3 separate regions of the Homo sapiens genome follow, and all the other regions are reported to be linked to region 2. Evidence: microRNA targets listed by miRTarBase, many of them from high-throughput screens and not tested one by one. Region 2 holds a microRNA gene; each other region holds the end of a gene's coding sequence.
What was found. The annotated mature microRNA hsa-miR-506-5p reads UAUUCAGGAAGGUGUUACUUAA and lies in region 2 at 2,213-2,234, opposite strand. An mRNA with a match to its seed (bases 2 to 7 or 8) in the 3' UTR can be bound and repressed. Matches are read on the target gene's strand: a 7mer-m8 pairs with bases 2 to 8, a 7mer-A1 pairs with bases 2 to 7 and ends in A, and an 8mer does both.

Region 1: the mRNA of DNAJC27 is a reported target of hsa-miR-506-5p. Seed matches in the 3' UTR shown: 7mer-m8 at 2,342-2,348.
Region 3: the mRNA of MRPS10 is a reported target of hsa-miR-506-5p. Seed matches in the 3' UTR shown: 7mer-A1 at 6,188-6,194.

Annotation. Positions count from the first base shown.
Region 1 is chr2:24,941,489-24,948,687 of GRCh38, reverse strand. It overlaps DNAJC27 (DnaJ heat shock protein family (Hsp40) member C27), which reads left to right. Exons shown (of 7, transcript NM_016544.3): 7 at 940-5,046. The coding sequence ends at 1,072. Among named protein-coding and RNA genes, the nearest start is that of ADCY3, 25 kb to the right of the region's middle.
Region 2 is chrX:147,228,576-147,235,774 of GRCh38, forward strand. MIR506 (microRNA 506) reads right to left here and starts at 2,268; the gene lies at 2,145-2,268. It overlaps MIR507 (microRNA 507), which reads right to left and starts at 2,502; the gene lies at 2,409-2,502. The region is part of intron 2 of LOC105373347 (periphilin-1); the gene reads left to right.
Region 3 is chr6:42,201,579-42,208,758 of GRCh38, forward strand. MRPS10 (mitochondrial ribosomal protein S10) reads right to left here. Exons shown (of 7, transcript NM_018141.4): 7 at 5,229-6,794. The coding sequence ends at 6,711. Among named protein-coding and RNA genes, the nearest start is that of GUCA1B, 10 kb to the left of the region's middle.

The DNA of each region.
Region 1 (7,199 bases), not on the chromosome of region 2:
CTCTTTGAGGAGCTCAGAAGCCTGCAGCTCTCTCCTGGAGCGCTGCTGGTTTATCGGAACCGCCGGATTGGAGAAGCACTGCTACTGCTCCTTTCCTCTCTGGATAATACTGATCTCTGTCGTGTTTCTTCTTTGGTCTCGTGAGCTCATTGTCATTCTGGACTACCCCTTTCCAGCATCCCTTGCTTGCTCAGTGGTGTCACCTTCTTGGGCCTCAGATTCCTCGTGACCTTGACCCTGGAGCTCATTTCAGCCCCTTTCTTTTCATCTTCTCCTCCTGGATATTCAGCTCATCATCCACTTCTGCCATTTCTTTCTTTATCTTTTATCTTCCCTTGTTTCCTTCCATAAATACCTTAATCTAAACTTGTACTCACTCATGCCTGGGTTATGTAACAACCTCCTGTATCCTAACTTCAAGAAACAGTTTTCCCAGCACACACTTGTCATGAAACACCTACTGTTGTGATTGTTTATCAGGCCCAGGTGTTGGGGTTGTTTTGCTTCCCGTCTGTGCTGTGTTCGGGCTCCATTCCAGGCCACTGTTGGTTCTCTCCCAGAACCCCTTCTTTCAGAAGGCAACTCTGGATGCCTTCCCTGGTGCCCAAGCCCTTATTCTTTCAATCAGCAAAGATATGCTGAGTGCCTGTGAGGTGCCAAGTACTGCCTGTTTTCATCTGATTATTATTTTACTAAGTGTTTTGTTAGCATTTATATACTTTTTGCATTGTGCAATAATAACTTTTTCAATTTGTGTTATATATTACATACTATTTATTGGTTGGTTGTCTGTTTTCTAGTCCTTTAATCCTGCCTTTGAGAAAGGGTAATAATTTAGGATATGTTCACTGTAAGAGATACTATGTGTGTCCAAACAGCTAACATGCAGTGGGTTGGGCTGACTCTGTTACTAACATAGATCTTGGCTTCTTTTCCCAGGGATGAAGTCAATAAAGCGTATCGGAAACTTGCTGTGCTTCTTCACCCTGACAAATGTGTAGCACCTGGCAGTGAAGATGCCTTCAAAGCAGTTGTGAATGCTCGGACAGCCCTCCTGAAAAACATCAAGTAGAAAGTACAGAAAAAAGCCACATGTGGGACTCAAATGCAAACAGACTTTCCCTAGAGGTGAAATAACCAACGTGGAGTTTTCCTTCCCAGAATCTCACTGCTCTTTTCATTCATGTGTTGTCATTTGTATATCAGTAATTCAGGTACCCATTTCATAGACATTTTACTGAGAAATGACCTGCATTTGTATGAAGTGAACTGAGCGTCACACCCTGTACTTCATTTCATATTTCTAGATAATTCTGAATTTTTTTCTCATTCGTCAGCTCTGTAATTATAGTATCACTTAGACATTTCACTTGGGGAAATCCACAAGGTTCCTGGAGGAGGGAAGAGAGGACAAGAGGACCCTTTCACTTTTTCTTTTTTACGGAATTCATCATCAGAGAAGAAAATAACAAAAATGGAAGCAAACAACATCAGAACCCCTGTAAGTTTGGTGTGACCTTACAGACAAGTTGCTGCTTTTACAATGAGTTCCTTAGGTGGTATTTTAACCCATCGATCTATAATGATGACTCTTGGCAGCCCTTTGGGAGTTTGTAAAATGAGGTGATACAGTTCTGAATTGAGCATTCCTTTATGATATTCACTCTGTTCCTCTTCTGCAGCCACCAGTGGGAGAGACAAGCCAGTCCTAAGAGAAAAGGTGGTGGCAGCCACAAATTCTAGGTACACTGGCTGCTGCCTATCCTGTCCCTGGATCTGAGGCCTTTCCCTTGCCATAGAAATGGTTGCTGGTAGCAGTAGAGAGCACTGTGCACCTGGGAATGAGGAATCAGGCCCCAAGACAGAAGTACTTGGAGGAGCCAGCTGCAGTAGTATCCGCCTGTAGTCCCAGCTACTCAGGAGGCTGAGACAGGAGGATTGCTTAAGCCCAGGAGCTCAAGTCCCACCTGGGCAACATAGTAAGATCTTGTCTCTTAAAGAAAAAAAAAAAAGGTACTTAGAGGTCGCACTTAAAGATTATGCACATCAGCAGAGGAAAGGCCAGCCAAGCTTGGGGCAAGCTTGATGCAGTAGGAGAGACTCCTTATGAGGCTTAGCCCTTGTCTTACTGCCAGCCTTTGCCACAGGCAGGTGAGAAAGGCAGGGCCACTCCTCAGCAAAGTTGGCCTCTTCTACACTTCCTCACCAGTGTTGTTTCTTCCTTTTTTCCCCTCTTCCCCTTCCCGTCTTGTGTTTTTTCTGAACCCCACATCTGCCATCATTTCTCTCCTCTAGAGTCCCTGGCTTCTGGCCACTGCCTCCTCCCTCTTCTAAGCCTTGGCCTGAATCTGGTTGATCAGAGGCAAGTGTGGATCCTTTGGGTGGCAGTCAGGGGAGATCTCAGGGCCTCTGTTGGGAGGAATCTCTGTAATTCCTGCTTGGGCTCCAAATTTCTGAAGAGTAATATTTTTAAACTATAGCTTACAAAATACATTCTCTGACCACAGTCTCCTCCTTGATATACAAGGGATGGATGAAGTTCATGTATTAGGACTGGCACTCCTTACGGTGCTTATAGAACTAGTCTCACCACTTGACTCATTACGTCGTCATTCTTGTTACATCACTCATACTTTTAGCTGCAACCACACTAATTCACATTTTTATATACTTTCAATTAGCTGTACTAATTGGGGCTTGAAAGTATATAAAATCTTCCTGTCCTGTGAATTTTAAAAAGCTATCCCATATCGATTGCCAAAGAGCATCTACCTTACCTCCTAAGAAGAAAAGCCACTTTCTTCCAATCCAAGCCCACTGCAGCCTTGTGGATTTTCCACACAGCAGCTTTTCACTGTATGCCTGTACTTGGGCTGCACTGAGCTTGTCTTCAGGAAACCAGAGCGTTGCTTTATCATCGCACTTTTCATCTTGGTAATATCAAAACAACTTTTTAAATGAACTGATTGATATATGTTATTTCTTGCGAGGTTTTCCTCTGGCCTTTAACTGGCTTCTGAGGCTACAGAACTCCAACCCAGAGTTCTTCGGGACCTAAATTTTGCTTAAGGAAGGCCTTTATCATGCTGAAAGCACTCAGACATGTCTGTCCTCACAGCAGAATGTAGAAGTCATATGAATGAGGGATCGTGCACGGTAGCGTCAGCCCGAATTGACACGACAACTCTGAATGTGTGGCCCTCTATGAAAGCTGGTGCCAGTTTTCATCACTGTTATTAAATACTAGATTGGGAACCTCATTCAGCCGTATTGCACAGATGAGCAATTACAGCAGAGAAAATTCATTAGTGCTCCCACTCATATCCTTATGTGTGAGTTGGTGAAATTTAGCCTGAGCTTGATTCTTAGGTCTTGAGACTCAGTTTCCAACACCTTCATTATTAATGTTAAGAATGGCCATATACCACTTCATTTACGTAAAAGGAATAAAATAAGCAAGTTAAGCTTCAGGGTCCTAGAATTTTTCTGATTTCTATAATCCTTCAGCAGAATATTAAGAAATAAAGCATGATCTGCAATGGAAAGGTTTTTTTGGCACTAACTTCATGCAGAATTTCACAGACATCTATGCATTAATTTAAATTCTTGGTGCAAATGTGTGCTTTGTAGTTCAACCTTATTAAAAATTCTTCAGCCAGTTAGGATTTCAAAATACATTAGTGAGAGTAACAGCTAGCAGAATAATTACAATGGCTAAAACGTTTTTATAGAGAATCTTGTTTTTCAAAAAAGAATAAAAAGTTTGAATAGCTATTATTAAAGAAAAGCCATGTCTTCAACATCTGAGTCACCAAGAAGTAACACTTTTTAAACTTGTTAGAAATCCCTGGAGGCATTTCAAATTCATCTTCTAACCTACCTAAGCACTTTAAAATACAGCCTCCTTCTGTTCCTCTGTTCCCCTTCATGCCTCCTTTTGAATTGATATCTCAGCTGTCAATATTTCTTTGACTTCAGCATTGTTATTTTATTTCTCTATATCAATGTGTCCTTAGTTTTCTTAGCCTGTTAATTTAAAAATCCAGACTTGGGGGTCATTGTGTTGCTACCCAAGAGAAAATGCTACAGTTTTATAGATTGCACATCATTCTTTAAGGCATACTTTTACCTCAGGAAACTTACTCTAGTATGTTCTCATATATTGAATTCTCAACTAAGTAACTATTTCTTTATACCTATAAACTAGTACCTAATTCACTGTTAGTTAAATGAGCTATAGATAAGGCAGCTAAATTTCTGAAAGATAGCCAGAGTAAGTAAGCAGCCACTGCAAGCTCTGAATCAGTTTTTTAAAAAAAAGAAAAAAAAAAAAAAGGAGCTGTGCCCCATTGAACAATGACAACATCACAAGGGGAAGGGAGGGATTTTGCCAAAAGTTAGAAAGGTGGAGCTGTAAGCCATGTGCTTGTTGCCTTTGACAGTGACAGTGCGCGTCTTACAACTAATTCCACTAGGCATGGGAATGTCACCTCCTTTGCCACTGTACCCCATCAAGCTTACTCTGAATCAAAGGTTTTGTAAAACTTTTGAAAATGAACTTAGCTGCAAAATATAGCTAACCACTTTCCATTGCAAGCTTTGCAAAGTGAAGAGAGGTTCGTACTTCTCATAATTGGTATTTAGCACAATTGTAAGATACAGTTTTACTGTTTGTACATCGTTTTTTTCCATTAAACTTTTCTAGAGAAGACAAAAGCTTACACTGGTGACATGGATAAGTGAGATGGTGTCTAACGAGCAGTGCAATATTAGGCGGTGCAATAGAGGCCCTGTTGGCAAGATGAGTTTTGCTGGAGAGCTGGACAGTGTTGGTTAGCTTCCTGCATTGATTGCCCCTGGGCGTTCTTCCCCCTTAACTGTGAAAGCAGAGTCTATAAATGAACTCTTTGCTCTTACAAGGTAATTTACATATTTTCTTTCTGTTGAAATAACTGAAAATGTTAAATCTACCAGTTTATGTCTTGTAAACAGAGTGTCATATGTATTTAAGTTGTGTATTTTTATAAAGTAAAGCCAAGTATCAAACACCGGTCTGTGGGCTGCATTTATTTGTGGAAACACTGGTCTTTAATGGAAAACATACTAAGCTAGATGCCAATCCAGTTCCTCACCGACTGTGACCCTCAGTAAGACATTCCTGAGAATGGCCCACCCCTCTTTCAGGGGAGCTACTCTGTCCTCTTCATCCTACTAACATGGTCTAAGGGGGAGACGTTCAAAATGTTCAAGGTCTTTTTTCTTTTTTTTTTTTTTTTTTTTTGAGATGGAGTCTCACTCTTGTCACCCAGGCTGGAGTGCAGTGGTGTGATCTCAGCTCACTGCAACCTCTACCTCCTGGGTTCAAGCAATTCTCCTGCCTCAGCCTCCCGATTAGCTGGGATTACAGGTGCCCGCCACCATACCTGGCTAATTTTTGTATTTTTAGTAGATTTTTGTAATTTTAGCCATGTTGGCCAGGCTGGTCTCGATCTCCTGACCTCGTGATCCACCTGCCTTGGCCTCCCAAAGTGCTGGGATTACAGGCGTGAGCCACTGCTGAGCCATTGCGCCCGGCCTCAAAGTTCAAGTTCTTTCCCATCTTTCCTCCCTGGTCACAGACACCAGTCCACAGGACAGGAATGTGACCCCAAATAGGTCACATAGGTGTCCTTCCCTAGGATCTCTCCAACTGAAGCTAGGAAGATACTTTCTCTCAGGAAAGGAAGAAGTCCCAGTGATGGCTGACAACCTTGATTCCAACCTCATGGGAAAAAATTGAGAATGAAGCAGACATCCAGCGAGAGGCAGAGTCCTGATGGTTTTCAGCCTTGCCTTCTAGTCCTTGAGGGAGGGCCCGTGAGCTTGTTTGTCAAGCTCGTCAGCCACCTCGGAGTCCTTCCACTTGTTTACTGCTTCAGTTTAGTTGGAGTTTGCTTTCTGTTACCTGCAGCCTAAAGAATGTTAGAAAATAAAAGCCAACAAGGATCATAAGCAGGGATGAGAAAGCTATGGTCAGTAACATTTAACAAGTGTAACATTTTATGTATTAAAATATATCCAATTACTTAGTTTTTCTCAACTGGAGTCTTTGGCTGCTTTTTAAACCAATAACCAGTTGTAAATGGAAAAGAACTGGACTTACTCAGTTCATTTCAGGGTCAATTTAAGATGCAAAATTATCTGGCTTTTTAGTTTCCAGTTGATCCATTGTCTATCGAGGGCACCTGTAATTTCTTAAATTTTTAATCAAACTTTATTGTTAAAGTGTTCATTCACCAGCCGGGTGCAGTGGTTCACACCTGTAATTCCAGCGCTTTGGGAGGCCGAGGTGGGTGGATCACGGGGTCAGGCATTCGAGACCAGCCTGGCCAACATAGTGAAACCCTGTCTCTACTAAAAATACAAAAAATTAGCTGGGCATGGTGGCGGGCACCTGTAATCCCAGCTACTCTGGAGGCTGAGGCAGGAGAATCGCTTGAACCTGGGAGGCAGAGGTTGCGGTGAGCCGAGATCGCACCACTGCCCTCCAGCCCGGGCGTCAGTGCGAGACTCCGTCTCAAATATATATATATATATATACATTCACCATGTATTTACTGAGCATCTACCATGTGCCAGGCCCTGTCCTAGGCACTGGAGATCTAGCAGAGCACAGAAGTGACAAAAATCCCTGCCCTGTGGAGCTTACAGTCTAGTGTCATTTTTTAAAATTTGTGTTTTGAAGAGTTTCTTTTTTTCTGTAATTTATTTCTGAAGAAGCAAGTTTGCATTTTTTAGAAATCTTCAAGATATACAATTTCAGAATTAATACTCTTATTGCTACTATATACTGAAGATCATGTAGGTTGTTAAATGCTTTTATTTTTTTGAGAGCGCAACCATTATCATTATGCCAAGCTCAGTTTTTCAGGTTGGCCTAAAGGAAATAGTTCCAGCTGGGCGCAGTGGCGCACACCTATAATCCCAGCACTTTGAAAGGCCAAGGTGGGGGCAGGAATCACTTGAGGTCAGGAGTTCAAGACCAGCCTGGCCAGCATGGCGAAACCCCCGTCTCTACTAAAATTACAAAAATTTCCTGGGGGTGGTGGTGAACACCTGTAGTCCCAGCTACTAAGGAGGCTGAGGCAAGAGAAGCGCTTGAACCCAGGAAGCGGAGGTTGCAGTGAGCTGAGATCATGCCACTGCACTCCAACCTGGGT
Region 2 (7,199 bases):
TGAAATACATAAGATGTCTCTTAGTATTACTATGCCTTGTGATTAAGGTCAGTAGAAAACTACAACAACCCAATCCTGGCAGGACTACTAATGGCCCAGACCCTTCAGAAATGAAAGTTTGGGTCACTCTACCAGGTAAAATATAATGGCTGAGGTGCTTGCTGAAGGCAAAGGGAATACAAAATGGGTAGTGAAGAAAAGTAGTTGTAAATACCAGCTAACACCAGATGACAGTTACAGAAATGAGAATTGTAGTTCCCATGAGTATTTTCTACTTATATTTTTATTAATATACTTCTGTGTTTTCTTGTCTCTCTTATCCCCTTATCATGTAACGTAAGGTGTACTGATATTATATCATAGTTATTAACCGTTGTTAACTTTAAATAATCATAGTATTGATGTTATGGAACACCAAGGAGAAGAGTAAACAAACAACACTCCAGGACTTTATCTCCTCTTCTGGTGAAGTGGTTCATGAATTCTGGGTTGTATAAATGGTAGTTGTATCTTATTAAATGAAATTATGACCTTGGTATTTTTCTCATTTGATGATTAAATATAATTTAAGGAGATGCGTATAAGTGACAACATGACAAGGAGTGAACTTGTGATGATTAATTCTATATTTCAACCTGACTGGGTCATGGAGTGCCCAGACATTTGGTCAGTCATTATTCTGGGTGTTTCTGTGAAGGTCTTTTTGGATGACATTAGCATTTAAATCAGTAGAATGAGTAAAGCAGACCACCCTCCCTAATGTGGATGGATGGGCCTGCACCAATCAGATGAAGGTTTAAATGGAACAAAAAGGCTGACTCTCCCCTAAGTTAGAGAGAATTCCTCCTGCCTGACTGCCTCCAAACTGGGGCATCTCATTTTTTTCTGGCATTGTACTCAAATTAAAACATTAGCTCTTCCTGGGTCTCAAACCTGCTGGCCTTTGGACTGGAACTACAAAATGGTTTGTTCTACTGCTTCTTTGGCCTCTGGACTTGGACTGCAACTATACCATCAGTTCTCCTGGGTCCCCAGCTTGCTGACCCATCCCCCTGCAGATCTAGGAACTCACCAGCCTCCATAGTTGCCTGAGGTTATTCCTTGCAGTATCCTTATAATAAATATCTTAAGGGATTTATTTTAAAAATAGACTTCTATAATAATTATATACATATATATTTGCTCAATCATTGTCCTGGGTGTTTCTTTGAAGGTCTTATAAGACCTGATCCAGAATCTGAGGGTGCCTGGGGTACCTGTGAAAAGTATGTCCTGTAGGTTTTTTAAGCATTTATTCCTTTTTCTCCACAAAAGGACTACAAAACACTGGGAACAAGATTTGAGGTAGGAACATGATCCTTTTTCTGCATCCTTTTCCTTTTTCTGTGAATGTCATATGTATGTGTGTGTGTGTGTGTGTGTGTGTGTATATATATATATATATATATATATATATATATATATAAAGGGATATATAAACCCCTTTGTATATGTAAAGTTTCCAGAAGTATATGTACACACATGTTCATACATATATGTTCTCATCACTTCATCCGTTCCCATAATAGTTAAGACCAGCTAAAAACATATAAATAGTTCAAATGAAAGCAAATTTGGGGTATCATATCAAACTCCACTGATATGAGATTATCATCACGGATACACAGGAATATTAAAGGGAATTTGAGTGTATCTAAGCCTTGAGGAGATCACTTCATAAGAAAGATGGTTCATGGAGTTTGGAGTTCAGCAGGGAAGGGCAGGAGGATATTTGTGCTCCCTAAAAAGAAGGCTTAAATATTGTGAGGAAAGAAGATCAGTGTAAACTTCTCAGGGGTTTATAAGGCAAGAAGTGTATTTGGGTTGTTATAGAGAGAAAAGACTAAGAGGTACAAGAGAAAAAGAAGTATCATGTTCCTACCTCAAATCTTGTTTCCAGTGTAGTCAGTCATTTTGTGGAGAAAAAGCAATAAATAATTGAAAAACCTACATGAGAGACTTTTCCCAGGCACCCTCAGATTCTGGAGCAGATCTCTCAAGAGGTACTTCAGAGAGTACCTGGAAATGGCTCATCACTAAAGGTTGGGTACCAAGGCTCAAGGGAGGGCAGTATTGTCACTGAAATTCCACTCGTCATTACCAATGCCACCACAAATGTTGTCCATGTTGCACATTACTCTACTCAGAAGGGTGCCTTACAAATATTAATCTATTAAGTAACACCTTCCTGAATAAGGCACTACACATAGTATGGCTGATGGTGGTGGCACTGACCATCTTAATAGTAACACGGGGAAACTACAGATGAGGCTATTCCCAGAGAACCTCATCCTCTAGGTTTTACCCCACAGAATTCTCTTTAAAGGGTTGTATGAGTTGACCCATCACTGAGTGGGTAGTTCTGACTTGTATCTGTTGTGCATTATTTCACTCCAAAAGGTGCAAAACATATTTCTAGACACATGCATGGCACTTCTTGAAGTGAAGCACTACACACAGCACAGCGGAAAATGTCCCTCACTCCGCCATTTCAGTCAGAATCCCAACACTCTCAGTCCACTAGGAATAAGCAGAATATAGTCAATAGATTAAAAAAAAAACAAACCCTTTTTCCTCTCCCTTTTGTCTCCTATGTCTTTCACTGAATGCTTATTAATTACTTCACCTGCTGCACATTTAATGAGACAGATTTTAGGAGAGAGAAAATTTTCCCTCTTCCTCCCAGACTTAGCATACTTCACTAAATTGTTCTGCTAATTTTCAATTTAATATAGTTGGCACATGAACAACTACTTCATATGCCTCAAAAGCCAGTCATTACATAGAAAGGACCACTCAAGTGACTCATCATATCTAGCGATTGCAGGCCAGATAGAGCTCAGTTGAAGCAGTGCTGGAGAGTTCTCTTCTTTCCAATTTGAATCTTCTTTATATCATTGGGGCCTTGGTTTGGCATCCTCTGTTCAGAGATGAAGGCCTACAGCAGCAGAAGCAGTAGTCACCACAGTCATGCACTTGCAAACCAGTGTTTAGACCAAGAAATATCTGCAACACATGTGAACACATGCATGCCACACATGCAAATAAACATGTGAACAATGAAACAAACAACCCCAAAACGAATGCTCACAAAATAGGGCAATGCAAACACAAAGACAAACACTGCATGATCTGACTCATACGCAGAGTCTAAGAAAGTTGATCTCATAGGAGTAGAGAGTAGAATGATGGTTACCAGAGTCTGGGGAAGGGAAGGGAAAGGGGGGTTGGGGAAAAATTGGTTTATGGGTACAGAGTCACAGTTAGGAGGGCTAAAAGTTCTGATGTGTTATTGTGCAGAAGAGTGATTGATTATAGTTAGTTAACAATATTTTATGGTATATTCCAAAATCACTAGAAGAGAGGGTTTTGAATGTTCTTCCCACAAAGAAGTGATGGACGTTTGAGGTAATGAAAATACTAAATCCCTGATTTGATTATTACACAATGCATGTATGTATCAAAACATCTCACTATATCTCATCAATATTTACAAATTATTATGTGTCAACTAAAAAAACAATAAAGGAGTAACAATTTTTTTTTTGAGACAGAGTTTTGCTTTTGTTGCCCAGGCTGGAGGGCAATGGCACAATCTCAGCTCACTGCAACCTCCGCCTCCTGGGTTCAAGCGATTCTCCTGCCTCAGCCTCCCACGTAGCTGGGATTACAGGCATGTGCCACCAGACCCAGCTAATTTTCTGTATTTTCTGTAGAAGCAGGGTTTCACCGTGTTGACCAGGCTGGTCTTGAACTCCTGGCCTCAGGAGATCCACTGGCCTCGGCCTCCCAAAGTGCTGGGATTACAGGCATGAGCCACCGTGCCCAGCCGGGAGTAACAATTTTTAAGAATGTAAAAATACTACTGAAAATTCTAATTAACACACATTTAAAAACACCATTCAAAATCGGAATAAAAAAAAACACACAAAATATACAAAACACATCCAAATATACAAAATTCTACAGGAAACAAAAACCCTAAAAAAGCAAACAAGCAATACAATAACAAAAATCAAAAAGAACATACACAATACAAAAACCCCCAAAACATAAAAACAAATACACTAAAATGTAACTTTACTTTCCAATAATCCCAAACAAAACAGAGAACGAAGTTCAAAGGAAATCTAGCACGTATCAGGGATAGACGACACTGCACTGAGAAATGCTGCGAGTGTAGGAAGGAGAGCAGTGGACACTGAGAAGTAAACAGATGAGGTATCATAATAAACAATGATAGAAAACAAAGTAGAACAGTTTCCCACCTCTTCACTACAGCCTGTATTTCCTCATGACTTTGGGTGAAGTGAGGTATTTGGCCACTGCAAAAACAAAATCCACACACATCATCAGTTGCCAACTAGACACCAAGAAAGACATGATTTGAAAGAGCTTTCCTGGGAGATAATGTAGCAGCAGACTATCAAATTCTATCCCATCCTCTGATATGGACATGTAACATTTACACCTTGCTTCCCAGGTCGTGCTTCCTGTGGGCTCCAGGAATTGGTTCTCCCTCCCCCTCTACTTTCTCCTCCCCCTCCCTCCCCTTCTCCTTCTCTCTCCCTCTTCCACCCTCTCCCTTCTCCCCTTTCTCCTCTTCCCCTCCCCTCTCTTTCTCCTTCTCTCCTTCTGCCTCTCCATACAGATATTTTTATATCAAGGTTCATAGCTACGTCTTTTCTAGTAGTCAAAGCCAAAATAGCTATAAACTGGAGACAAATGGCCATTAACAGGTGAATGCATTTAAAAAAAACTGGAATATCCATACAGTGGAATACTACTCATCCATAAAAACAAATAAATTATTGATGCAAATAACAATGTGGACGAATTTCAAAATAATTATGCCAGGAGAAATAAGCTAGGCCAAAATAAACAGTATATACAGTATGATTCCATTTTAATAAAAAATTTTGGCCAGGCACCGTGGTTCATGCCTGTAATTCCAGCGCTTTGGGAGGCTGAGGTGGGAGGTTCAGTTGAGGTCAGGAGTTTGAGACCAGCCTGGCCAACATGGTGAAATCTCGTCTCTACTAAGAATACAAAAATTAGCTCAGCATGGTGGTGTGCGCCTGTAGTCCCAGGTACTCGGGAGGCTGAGGTAGGAGAATTGCTTGAACCTGGGATGCAGAATTTACAGTGAGCCGAAATCACGCCACTACACTCCAGCCTGAGTGACAGAGAGAGACTCCATCTCAAAAAATAAAAAATAAGAATCTGGAAAATAAAATCTAATCCATAGTGAATAAAAGCAGATTAGTGGCTGCATGGCTCTGTGGTTATGTGCAGAAGACCGAAAATGAGGATCACAAAGAGGCAGGAGGAATCTTTCAGGGAGGATGTATAATATTCCCTATTTATTTTGATTTAGGGGATGATTTCATGGGTGTATAAACAGAATATGTCAAAGCGCAAACTTTATGTCAGTCATGTATCAACGACGCTTTTTAAGAACTAAAGCTATCACAATACAAAAATCTCAAAATAACAAACACATGCTCATACACACAATTCAAAAAAACCATATAAGCTAAAAAAAAAAAATCAATCAACAAATAATGCAAATTATCCCTAACAAAAGAAAGAAATTTTAGCCTTATGTACCAAAACTTCTATAAATGATTTTTTAAAAAGTAATGAATCAGAAAAACAGGGCACAAATAAATAAAAACTAAAAAGTAAACCAATAATATATTTTTAAACCCCTATCAACAATCATCCCAAATTAGAAAAGCTCAACAAACAGGATTAAAATAAATAAATAAATCAACTACAACAAATTCCAAACAGAATCAATACATGAACTTATCAATTAGAAAGCATGTTGCAAATACCAAACCATGTAAGCATACACACAGATACTGAGGCAAAACATTTAAAATCCAAGCAAACTCCCACAACTTAAAAAAAAAAACACATCCCCAATAAAGCGCACATATATATGAAAGACAAAACTTTCTGAGCCCCACACAATTAAAGGGGAAAAAATAACTACAGCAACAAAACAAAATTCATACAAATTTAAATATCCCAAAACACAAGGAAAATGAAGAACCCCCCCCCCCCACACACACACACAAAATAAAACAATAAACACAAACTGAAACTAAAAATACATGGAAAATAACAAAATACTTTAAAGAAGTCAACATCATTCAAAAATAATCACAGAAATGCACGCATACACACCCACATCCATCCACCCACCCACCCACTCACATATACACACAAAAAGTCAGCTGAAAAGCAAATAGAAATACACTAGAGAATAAAACAAAGAAAGATATAGCAAAACAGCAGGAAAGAAACAAACATGTCTAAATACACAAAGGAAACTACAACTAAAACAACTCCCAAGCACCTCTCAGTACAAATCAAACCAAACGCATAAATTAAAACCAAATCAAAACCAAAGAAGAAAACTCAGATTGGAACCAACAACTAATAATTAAATCATGACAGCCCCCTCCCCCCGAAACAGGAATAAAACATTTGCTGAAACACAAACCACAATTCTAACTTAAAAAAAAAAAAAAACTTCAAGTATGCAACGAAACAACAAGCAGAGGTGCCATGAACACTGAATTGCAAACAATAAAAAATCACACTGTACCCCCAAAATATGTACAATGATTATGTGTCAGTTAAAAATAATAATACAAGCAAACAAAATAAACAAATAAACCTAAAAAGGAAGAACCAACTTTGAAAAATAAATGCACAGAGACTGGAAATGAAAGGACAATTATAAACAAAATAATATCACAAAAAACAAAAACAAAACCAAAATCAGACAGTTACCAATGTCTGGATAAACAATATTACTAAGCAAAAACAATTTGAAAAGTCCCCCCAAACCCAACCACAATATGCACATGAACGAATCAACTAACTAAATTAACTCATTTGTAAAAACCAACACACACATACTCACACACAAACTCACACCTTCTCAAAAATAAGCACAAATTTGAGAACAATTTGCAGTGGTGCCACTGTCACTGCCCCAGACACACATCTAGGGTGGTGAGACTTTCTGCCCAGGAAAACTCTTAGAGCTCATGAAATAGGGAAGAAGATACCATGAGCAGTAGACACTGGTTGTACACAGGCGATAATGTAGTAGTATTAGTGATATAAGAGAAGAATACCCT
Region 3 (7,180 bases), not on the chromosome of region 2:
ACAAGACAATTCCTCTTTGACTCTGTTTAGTGTCTAGATTAGCAGGTATTTGTTGAGATAAAAATGATAATGGGATTTTAGAACTGGAAAAGGCCTTGAAGATTATCTAGCCCATTAATTTCCAATTACCCATCTCAACACACTTTAAGATAACACATGCCCATCAGCAGCCGTGGCTCTGTAACAGCAGCATCTCAACTGGCTTGGTGTGAAGGTAGTATTATTCCCATCCATCTCTCTTTTTTTAGACAGGGAGACAGGGTCTTCCTCTGTCACCCAGGCTGGAGTGCAGTGGAACACTCTCGGTTCACTGCAACCTCCATCTTCCGGGTTCAAGCAATTCTTATGTCTCAGCCTCCTAAGCACCTGGAATGCCCAGCTAATTTTTGTATTTTTAGTGGAGGTGGTGTTTTGCCATGTTGGCCAGGCTCCATCCATCTCTTAACACTTATTATTTAAGCAGCATTGAAGATTGATTAAAGTACAGTATCTCTGCCCAAGTTAAGAAATTTTATGAGTGAAATATAACTTGATTTAACCTCTGGCCGAGGAATTTAAAATTCAATTGGTTTTTCATGTGGGTCAGTTGCCCATGACCTGCCCTATAAATAAATGTCGCTGAGCTACTGAGTTATAAATATATCATTTTAAAGAGGATTAGAAATCCAGCCGGGCATGGTGGCTCAAGCCAGTAATCCCAGCGCTTTGGGAGGCTGAGGTGGGCGGATCACTTGAGGTCAGGAGTTTGAGACCAGCCTGGCCAACACACCGAAACCCCATCTCTACTAAAAATACAAAAGTTAGCTGGGCGTGGTGGCGGGTGCCTGTAATCCCAGCTACTCAGGAAGCTGAGGCACGAGAATCGCCTGAACCTGGGAGGCAGAGGTTGCAGTGAGCCGAGATTGTGCCACTGCACTCCAGCCTGGGCGACAGTCAGACCCTGTCTCAAAAAATAAACAAATAAATAAATAAAAATAAAATAAATAAATAAATAGATAAATAAAATAAAGAGGATTAAGAATCCATAGAGAGAAATGAGAGCTTGAAGTGAGTAACAATAGAAAGGATTTAAGGAGGGCAGGGTTAGGAATTGAGCAGGGGATTTGGAAAGAGAGTCCTGGGGATTGCAGGCAGTCAGCCATAAGCCTGGCTCCAGGGGCAAAGATATGCTTAAAATCGACAAACCCATGTCTTCTGAGCCCTAGTCAGGCTGGACCTGAAGCCCCACTGTGAATCATCTCCATCTGAGTGTTCTTGTGACCGAGTAGGACTCCCCTTGCTGATGCCTAAACTCTTGTGTTGCCCCCTCCCTCAGGACCAGTCTGAGCAGTGGGACCACCTAAATTGTGCCGTGTATCTTGCTTCTTGCTTTAATTCATTAATTTTTCCTCCCAGTCAATCACTTTACTTCTAAGCTTTAGACCAAGCTTATCCAATTGGAGGCCCACGGGCTGCATGCGGCCCAGGACGGCTTTGAATGCAGCCCAACACAAATTGGTAAACTTTCTTAAAACATTGTGAGATTTTCTTTCATGATTTTTTTTTTAATTAGCTATTATTAGCGTTAGTGTATTTTATGTGTGGCCCAAGACAATTCTTTCAATGTGGCCCAGGGAAGCCAAAAGATTAGACACCCCTGCTTTAGAGGAAACGAGTACATTTTGGTAACGTGAGAGGTGAACAAACCTGGAATTTAGCTTTGAATATTCTGCATTTAGTATGTGGATATTTGAGTACCTCATAGCCTGCTTACAAATTAGCTTCTAGGGCTGACCCTGTCACTAACAGCTTCATCTGTAAGCTGAAAGGGTGACTGAGTGGGCAAATAACAACTCTCTAAGCCTTGGTTTTCTGTCCTGTAAAATGGGGACAATGGTAAGTACTTCAGTGTGTTAATAAAAATCAAAGGATTTTTGGTTTGTGGCTGGGCGCTGTGGCTCATGCCTATAATCCCAGCACTTTGGGAGGCTGAGGCTGGCAGATTGCTTGAGCTTACAAGTTTGAGACCAGCCTGGGCAACATGGCAAAACCCTGTTTCTACAGAAAAAAAAAAGAAAGAAAAAAAAAGAAAAATTAGCCGAGTGTGGTGATGTGTGCCTATAGTCCCAGCTACTAAGGGGGCTGAGGTAGGAGGATCATTTAAGCCCAGGAGGCGGAGGTTACAGTGAGCCAAGATTGTCACTGCACTCCAGCCTGGGTGATAGAGCCAGAACTGTCTGAAAAACAACGCTAAGGGCTGGGTGCGGTGGCTTATGCCTGTAATCCCAGCACTTTGGGAGGCCGAGGCGGGCGGATCACGAGGTCAGGAGATCGAGACCATCCTGGCTAACACAATGAAACCCCGTCTCTACTTAAAAATACAAAAAATTAGCTGGGCGTGGTGGCGGGTGCCTGTAGTCCCAGCTACTCGGGAGGCTGAGGCAGGAGAATGGAGTGAACCTGGGAGGCGGACCTTGCAGTGAGATTGTGCCACCACACTCCAGCATGGGTGATAGAGCGAGACTCCATCTCAAAAAAACAAAAACAAAAACTCTAAGGTAAATGTTATCCCTACCCTGGAGGTAACCTGAGGTCTTTTCCAGCTGGTTCTTGAACAGTATAGCACACAAGCATCTAAAGTATCATCGGAATGGTACTGCCATTTACTGAATGTCTGTTACCTGCTCAATACTGTGCAAGGTTTTTTATCAGTTATCGAATACTCCAACCTTATTAAGCTGGAGCATTAAATATATGTCAAATGTAAGTATGTAGGTATTATTTCCTACAGACTTATTATTACCTTTACTAATGAGTACACTGAGGCCCTGACAGGGTTAAATCTCTTGCCCAAGTTTACGGCAGTCAGTGGGTTTGAACTCTTATCTGACTCATGTCTGTCTGACTCCAAAGTCCATGTTTGCTCTATTCTGTCATTCATTAGTCTTGTAATAGAACTAACTTAATAATGTAATGTAAGACAGGGATGGTTGCAGACAACTAGAAATGTTAAGAAACTAGACTAATAATTTAAAATGATTGCTTTATGTATTCACTGTGGCATGTTTAAATGGTCATAGGGCCAGGAACATATGCCATTCTTTCAAAGCACTGAAACTTGGCACTTGAACTAGTTTAGTCTGTCTTACCAGAGATCTGTAGTTATACTAAGACTCTTGGATGAGAACATGATTTTATTTAATATGAAGAAAATATAGGCTGGGCATGATGGCTGATGCCTGTAATCTCAGTATTTTGGGAGGCCAAGGCCGAAGAATCACTTGAGGTCAGGAATTTGAGACCAGCCTTGGCAACAAAGTGAGACCCCCATCTCTACAAAAAGATTAAAAAATTAGCCATGTATCATGGTACATGCCTGTGGTTCCAACTACCTGGGAGGCTGAGGCAGGAGGATCATCTGAGCCCAGGAGGTCAAGGCTGCAGTGAGCTGTGTTCATGCCACTGCACTCCAGCCTGGGCGACAGAGCAGGACCCTGACTCCAAAAAATAAAAAAATGAGCTGAGTGTGGTGGTGCACACATTTAGTCTCAGCTACTTGGGAGGCTGTGGTGGGAAGATCCCTTGAGCCCATAAGTTCGATTGTGTAGTGAGCTTTGATCGTACCACTGCACTCCAGCCTGGGCAACAGAACAAGACTCTGTCTCTACAAAAAAAAAAAAAAAAAAGAAAAAGAAAAAAGATCATCTCACTTCCTACCTGCCTTCTGGTTCATTCTATTTTTTTTCTTTTTTTTGAGATGGAGTTTCACTCTTGTTGCCCATGGCGTGATCTTGGCTCATCGCAACCTCTGAGTTCAAGGGATTCTCCTGCCTCAGCCTCCCAAGTAGCTGGGATTACAGGCATGCGCCACCACACCCTGCTAATTTTGTATTTTTAGAAGAGACAGGGTTTCTCATATTGGCCAGGCTGGTCTCCAACTCCCAACCTCACATGATCCGCCCGCCTCAGCCTCCCAAAGTGCTGGGATTACAGGCGTGAGTCACCACTCCTGGCCGGTTCATTCTATTTTTTTTTTGCCATTACTTTTAATGGCAAAAACTGCAATTACTTTTGCACCAACATATATTATCAAATCCACTCTTCTCTCACCATCTCCCATACCCACCATGGACAGAAAGTGTGACCCAGGCATTAATTCTAATTTTCAGGATATGCATTTTACTCAGAGGCCTAATTTAAAACCAACAAAAGAAAACCAAAAATCTTCTTAGCCTATCAAGATAGCTATATCCTGATAAGCTAAGAAGTTATTTTGTTTATATCATTTTTTCAGTACTGTACTTCATGCCAAACTTGTTTATATCAAGAAGCGGGCTTCAAATATGCCAAATACTTTCGTCGAAGAAATACTGCTAGTTTTGGGCCAGGCGCAGTGGCTCATGCCTGTAATCCCAGCACTTTGGGAGGCCGAGGCAGGTGGATCACGAGGTCAAGAGATCAAGACCATCCTGGCCAACATGGGGAAACCCCATCTCTACTAAAAATACAAAAATCAGCTGGGCGTGGTGGCACATGCCTGTAGTCCCAGCTACTTGGGAGGCTGAGGCAGGATAATCGCTTGAACCTGGGAGGCAGAGGTTGCAATGAGCCGAGATCGCGCCACTGCACTCCAGACCGGGTGACAGTGCAAGATTCCATCTCAAAAAAAAAAAAAAAAAAAGAAAGAAAAAGAAAAAAGAAATACTGCTAGTTTTTCTCACGTGCATGTGTGCACATGTAGTTCATTTGCTTATTTAAGCCGAGGTTTTAACACATAATTGGAAGTCCTAAACTAAGGACTTTGGTTTACATGGAGTGCTATGGTACAATCTCGGCTCACTGCAACATCCACCTCTTGGGTTCAAGCAATCCTCCTGCCTCAGCCTCCCAAGTAGCTGGGATTACAGGCGCCCACCACCATGACCAGCTAATTTTTGTGTTTTTAATAGAGATGGGGTTTTACCATGTTGGCCAGGCTGGTCTCGAACTCCTGACCTCAGGTGATCCACCTGCCTCAGCCTCTCAAAGTGCTGGGATTACAGGCTTGAGCCTCCACAACCGGCCGGGTCTATATTTATTTTTAAAGAATTACTTCAGATGAAAATGTGTCATAAATTGCTGCTTTGCTGCACATAGTTACCATTATGTTGCTCATGTTTTATTGACTAGTTCTTGATCTTCAAGTACTTATACCTGGTGTCAGTATGCTTTAGGCATTCATGAATGACAGTCAACAACTGAGCTGAAGGTCATGGGGCACAAAGCTGCAATTCTTTTAATGGTGATGACAGTAACGTAAGTCTGATACACAAGCAGTATGTATTCAACACACTGATACCTGATAGCATGTCAGGAAAAAAGAATAGGCAATGCAGTTTAAGGGGGGAAAAACTGAGAAGTCATAACTACTCCAAAGATGTGCAGGAAACCACAAAAGACATGGACCTGCTTCTACTATAAAAAGAAAATGAAGCACTTCTCTGGGGTTGCTATACCAACTGTTTCAGCCCATTGTAGTCTTGCCTCTTTCAGGGCTTTAGCCACTATTTCATTTCATGGAAAAGCAGACATCTCCTAACAAACAGAGTGACATTTACCAAAATAAAGAGGGCTTCTCAGTGAGAAGCTTAATAAAGAAAAATATTTACCTATGCTTTGCACAATTTTCTTTTTTTTTTTTTGAGACGGCGTCTCGCTCTGTCGCCAGGCTGGAGTGCAGTGGCGCGATCTCGTCTCACTGCAGCCTCCACCGGGCCCGGGTTCACGCAATTCTCCTGCCTCAGCCTCCTGAGTAGCTGGGATTACAGGCACGTGCCACCATGTCCAGCTAATTTTTGTATTTTTATTAGAGACGGGGTTTCACCGTGTTAGCCAGGATGGTCTGGATCTCTTGACCTCGTGATCCGCCTGCCTCGGCCTCCCAAAATGCTGGGATTACAGGCGTGAGCCACCGTGCCTGGCCTGCTTTGTGCGATTTTCAAAAGCCATTATTTCTATTCAATTTTGGGTACTTAACTACAGTGCTGGATGTAAAGTTTATGCAGTAAAAGCTTATTGAATGAATGAATCATAGGATAAATAATACAACTAGTAATTTCTTAAGATCATAAATTCCATTACAGTAACCCTGGTAGGCAACTCTATAAAGTTCTGGGCTCCAAGAAGAGGTCAGTGCATGCCATAAATGTGTTTGATCTGCTGTGAAGTATATTCAGTCTTCAAAATGTAATGCTTACATGAGATAAAATCGGTTGGTTACCACCCCCAAATTAGCATATGCCAGCCTGCACAAAGGTAAATAGCAAAAACTTTAACTGCTCAATCTGAATTAACCAAAGATTCCTTCTAGGAATCTTAAAAAAAAATAAGGGTACGAACACTCCAAGCACTTATTTTCAGATGCATCAACTGACATAAATTAAAAATGGTACAAACTAATAATTGAACACCAGTAGCGTAACAAAATAGAATTTTCACTCTTTCTGCTTTCAGTCAAAGTGGTTTGCTCATGTTTGCTGAAATCAGAACTGAAACAATGAATAAAAAGAATAGATAAAAGTGGTTCTTCCATTAAAGTTCCATTCCCTGCCCTCAGCTGATGAGGGCACGAGAACTCAATGGAGCAGTTAGGGCAGACTCAAATCATCTCAGCTGGAAGCACTCTCCACTTAAACATACTCATCTGGCCCACCCTCATTTCAAATTTAGGCAAAAATGGCCTCCCTGAGGCTTTATGACTTGCTTTCTTCTTTTTCTTCTGATAGTGTTTCCCAGATTGGCTCCTTGATGTGTTCTGGTAACTGTTCTAATTGTGTCTAAAAAAAGAAAGAAACAAAACTATAATGTGGATTTAACAGAACTCTTTGACTACAAATCGGACTTATTAATTTGGTCAAATCCTCTTTACTTCTTTTTCTTTTATCCCCCTAGTCTTTCTATAGGGTTTTGAAATGGAAAGAAGGAAACTTGATGGTCTATAAAACACTCTCACATACATAATCGATTTGATCCTCAATGATCTTCATGGATTGCCACTTAATGGGATCCCCAGGTCTAGACAACTCATATTGAGGAGGGAGAACTTCATAGGTGGTTCACGGAGGACTTGGGCTGAAATGGCAGGATTCTGTTGCAAGGGGTGGGTAGCCCCCAACCGCTGTGGCAACTGTGTCTCCCAGTTTGCCACAGTTTAGGGCAAACT